2 separate regions of the Homo sapiens genome follow, and region 1 is linked to region 2. A link means that fine-mapping ties the variant in region 2 to the expression of a gene that starts in the linked region. Tissue or cell type: thyroid. Region 2 holds a variant in brackets; the other region holds the start of a gene. All regions are shown on one strand. Distances are from middle to middle.

Region 1 (2,500 bases), 85 kb after region 2:
TCTGCCACTACCGAAGGGTTTATGGCGATGCCTGCCACGTGGTCTTTCTTTTCATGGTTCACAAGCCACAGGGAAGTGCCTAAGGCACACAAATCTTAAGTATACAGTCTGATGATTTTTCACGCGGGTACACACCTGCATAACCCCCTCCCAGATCAACAAATGTCTACAGAGACATTTTCAGCTCCCAGCAGTCCGGGTGGTGTGCCCCTCCCCATCAGTGGCTATCTAGCCCCAAAAGCTAATCTCGATTCTGACATTCACACCATAGATTAGTTTCGCCTTGTCTAGGATTTCTAAATGGAATCATATGGTGTGTACTCTTTTGCATCTGATTCTACTCGTCAAATTAAAAATCACATAAAATCAGCACACGGGCAGACAATGATAGCGGGAGAAAGGAGGGCGCGGCTGAGTTTCTTTCCCTTCCAAGCAGCCCCCTAGCCTGTTCGTATTTGGGCTCAGTGACTGATCAAAGGGGACAGTGGGAAGAGCTGGATGGACACTGGAGTTTGGAAACACAGGAGTTGACCTTAGAAAACCAGTGGACCGCAGGGGGCAAAAGAGCTGCCCCGCCTGGAGAAGGCATTGTAGGATGGCGGAGGCAGGTGGGTCACTTCTGTTGCTTCGGATGTCCAGAGGGGAGAAGGTTTTATGAGGCCTTAAAACGCTCACACCGGGTTCCTCCCACGCCATGCGCCAGGGGCACCCCATGTGGCCACCGGTTCCTCCCGGGTTCGCTCTGGCCGGGGCTCCCCGGGTGCAGACAACCTCCCAACGACCGCGCATCCGCCCGGCAGGCGCGCCTCCCTACCTGTGCACTGCTGGATGAAGTGCTGGTACTCCGCTCCCTGCTCGCCGGGGACGATGGTGGAGCCGTCATATTTAAAAGTCACCCTTTGGGTTGGGAGAAGAAAAAAACACACACACACATCAGCGCTGGTGGCCGCGCGACGCGGCGCTTGCAGAGGACAATCTAACAGACGCGCTGGCCACGGAGAAGCCCGCGGGGGCCTGGCACGCCGTCCCGGAATAAGGCGAGGAAGACAGCGCGGGAGGCCCGAATCCGTCCCGCCTGGAGGCCGGCTCGGTGCACGAGGCCCCGCGCGAGCCCGGGGAGCGGGGCGTGGAGACGAATGAAAAGTTCCTACCAGATGACGGCCGAGCCGTCGTCGCGCACCAGGTTGTACGCCGCCCGGCAAGCCTCTTTGTCGATCTTGGTGGCCATCGCCGCGGAGCCGCAGCGGGACACTGTCCGGGGCGGCCGAGCGCGCCCCTGGCCGGCGGCGGGGATGGGAGCGCGGCGGGTACGCGCCGAGGGCGCACGGGCTGGCGGCGGTGGCGACGGCTACGCGGCGCCTGCAAGCTGCGAGCGCGGCGGCGGCTTCCACTGCGGACGGAGAGCGCGCGGGGACCCCAGGCCGTGGCCCGCCCCGCCCCCCCGCGCCCATTGGCCGCCCAGGCGGCGGCCCGCCTCTTCATTGGCCGTCGGGCTGCGGGGGCGGAGCGTCTTGATTCTCTGGCGGCCAATCCCAGACCGGAAGGCTTGCGCAACTCCGCGGTGGGGGCTGGAGTAGGGGCTTTGCCTCCTCCCTCTCACTCTCCCTCCTCCCTCCCGCTCTCTTCTCCCCCAACATCCCTCTTCTCTCTCCTTCTCCTTCTCACTTCCCCTCCTCCCCTCCCGACCCCTCCCTGGAAACTCCCACTACCCCAACCCCCTTTCCCACCCCGCCTTCCTCCTCTCCCTCCTCCTTCCTCTTCTTCCCCCACTGCTTGCTTCCCCCACTTCCCTGACCTCTTCCCCCTCCCTTCCCTCCCCCTCTTTCTCCCTTCCCCCTTTATTCTTCTTCCTCTCTCCTCCTCCCTCTTCTTGCCTATCCCAGCCCAAAACTTCTCCATCCTCCCTATTTCCTTCTCCCCAAGCTCTCCTCTTTCCTCCTCCTTGACCCCCTCCCCTGCTGCCCCCGGCTTCGCCTCCCTCTTCTCCACTTACCCTCCTGGCATCTCCTCCCTCCCTGTCCCCTACTCCCTCCTCCTATTCCCCCTCTCCCCCTTCCTCATTCTCCCCACCCCCCTGCCCCTGAGGCTGCAGGGCTGCAGAGCTCCACAGGGGACCTCCACGTGGATGATGTAATGCGTCAAACCCAAGGAGACAGGCTGGCCACTGTCCCTACCCCAGCGTTTGGTTCCATGGATTCTAGGTGGGGAGGAACTGGAAAGAATGAAGCATTTTAAATAGGAGGGGGTAGAAAGTGGACTGCTTCCAAAACGCTGGTGGGCTCGCGTTTACTCTGGATTCTGGTCATTTGCATTCCTATCTTAACCTCTCCCTTTGGGCTCCTCTGAAAGCACGAGCTGACTCATTCTGTCTTCCTCATTCCTTCACTGACTCATTCATTCATTCCCTCATCCAGCCATTCCACAGAGACCAGTTACAGCGTCCAGGTAGGTAAAAAGGCAGGATCCTGAAGACTGGGCTCTTGAATTGCATCCAGTACTG
Region 2 (2,500 bases):
AAAGTGCTGGGATTACAGGTGTGAGCCACACCCAGCTGGAAGGTAGAAACTTTACCCTCCTCCTGATGTGCCCTCCTAATAAACCCTGAGGAGCCGGTAGCTGCCTGAGTGCCTGCACTTGACATGCATGATTGCATTTCATCTCACAGTGCCCCTCAAAGTAGAAATGATGGGCACCATGCGACAGATGAGGAAACAGATGCTCAGAGATCTTGCCCAAGATATCTGTGGCCAATACACAAGTCAGATGCATGGCTTGTCCCAGTTCACTGTGGTGGAGGCAGGTCTGGAAACCAAGTCTGTCTGACAGCACAGCCCTTGTTCTCACCAGTACGTTCTGCTCCCTTTGTCATGAAGCCTGCTGCAGTTTGGGATCGGAGTTGGTTCACTGCGTTTCTAAGCATCATGCCTGCTCATGCACTCATTCATTTGCTCATCCATTCACTCCTTCCAAAGGCTGAGAGACGTGGTATCCTTCCCAGGTGAACAAGTCCCCGGCGCCACCCACACCTCCGCCCCCAGGTCAGTCTTGACACTCCAGATGAACGCACCCTCCAAGCAGACAAGCCAGAACCTGAACAAAGGAACCCAAAAATGTTACCAACTTGCAAACTGATTGCAACTTGAAAATGTATTGCAGCTTGACATTTATTGAAAATGACTGCAATCTTGGCTGCTGGGTTTGCATTTTTGGCAAAATGTCCCTTTAGTCCCCTCTGCTTGCTGAAATCCCTCCATTCTGATTCTCTCATTCACAAGCTCAGCCAGGGCACTCACTGGGAGGGTGAATGTTAACACAAGCAGTGACCTTTCCAGAAAAGAATGACCATTCGCCTCCGCATTCCCGAGAGGAATTCCCCAGGAGCAGCCGAGGAACTTGGTACCATTTCTAAAAGCACATTCTTGGCTGCTTAACATCTCATGTCCATATTTGGGAGTT[C/A]TTGTGTCTTGTTGCATTCATGTGCGGTTCCCTTTCAGGGCAAGGCCTCAGCTCCAGGCTATCTGGGTCGTTTCCTGCCTGCGGCCCAGTAGGAAGAGAGTTAGTGGTGGCTTCTGACAATCTCCATAGGAGGGATGTTAGAGCCAAGGCCAGGGCAGGAAGGAAGCTGCCAGCTAAGCGGCTACTGGAAACTCCCGCTGAGGATGCGGCACCAGGAACACAACCTTATGACTGTCAGAACATCATAGCTGCACATTCATTTGGCAAAATTTAGAAGCGTGTTTATTTTTTTTCCTTATGAAAGTAACATAACCACCTTCCAGAAGAGAGAAGCAAGAAACCTCACACAGATTATGCTGGGAGTCCCGAAGACCACCCTCACATTCATAGATTTGCTAAAAGAATTCATATGGGCTTCGGCATATTCAGGTAGCTGTATGTGTGGCTAAGATTTATTTACAACAGTGCAGTAAGGATACACAATCAGCTCAAAAGGCGAAACCGTAGAGTTGGAGTCTGCAGGAGTCCATTATGAGGCTCTCTCACGCCCTCCCCTCCCCAAGAAGGGTTGCACAGAGCACATTCCGTCCCCATCAACAAAAATGCAGCTGTGTGTCTGCAAGGCTTCTGTCCAAGGAAGCCCATCAGAGACTCAGCACCCCAGAGTTTTTCTAAGGGCTGGTCAGTTGGCACCTTCTTCTTAGCAGGTACCAAATTCCCAGCTCCCGAAGGGAAGCACGTGTTTAGCACGAACCACATTGTTTGTGGTCTAAGCACAGTGAACCACTTTTATCATTTAGGAAACAGCTCAAGTGCCAAGTTCCCAGACACCAGCCAAGAGTCAACCTAGCAAGCAGGTCTTCCGAAAGATAGCAGTCTCAAGCCTGCTATACTAACTTCTGTCTGCACAACCACATATATGCAGCTGGAATACGGCCACCCCTAGCAGTTCTGTGAATCGCCCTCCTTTCTTTCCTTTTTTTAACCTGTGACTATTTATACATCTTAATTATAATCTTGTCACATGAAGTGAAGCAACACAGAATTATACAATTTTATATTTTTTTTCACTTGATATCATAATTTTTTTTTTGAGACAGAGTCTCACTCTGTTGCCCAGGCTGTAGTGCAGTGGTGTAATCTTGGCTGACTACAACCTCTGCCTCCCAGGTTCAAGTGATCCTCCTGCCTCCACCTCCCAAGTAGCTGGGACTACAGGTGCGTGCCACCACGCCTGGCTAATTTTTTTTTATTTTTAGTAGAGATGTGGTTTTGCCATGTTGGCCAGGCTGGTCTCCAACTGACCTCAAGTGAACTGCCCACCTCAGCCTCCCAAAGAGCTGGGATTACAGATGTGAGCCACTGCACCCAGCCTCATAACATAACTTTTAGTGGCTGAAATCATGCACGCATCCCACCAGTATTTACTAAATGAGTGATGTTCTCTTCAGTAGATGTTCTGTGATTTATTACAGTGCATGGTTGTCTCTTTGATGTTCACTCTTTATGCACCTATTGTGCAAGCCTGAAAAACTAGGTGAGCTCTGGTCACTAAAGAGC

What was found. PIP is the estimated chance that this variant, and not a neighbour inherited with it, causes the effect.
Region 1: COTL1 starts here. The variant in region 2 is fine-mapped to the expression of COTL1 in thyroid (GTEx, PIP above 0.99).

The regions. Positions count from the first base shown.
Region 1 is chr16:84,616,687-84,619,186 of GRCh38, forward strand. COTL1 (coactosin like F-actin binding protein 1) reads right to left here and starts at 1,392. Exons shown (of 4, transcript NM_021149.5): 1 at 1,152-1,392; 2 at 815-897. The coding sequence starts at 1,228. RefSeq lists silencers at 1,221-1,270, 1,291-1,650.
Region 2 is chr16:84,531,538-84,534,037 of GRCh38, forward strand. No RefSeq gene overlaps it. Among named protein-coding and RNA genes, the nearest start is that of MEAK7, 28 kb to the left of the region's middle. RefSeq lists silencers at 1-103, 386-680 and enhancers at 217-894, 895-1,573, 1,574-2,250. The variant C/A (reference allele first, on the strand shown) is at 941.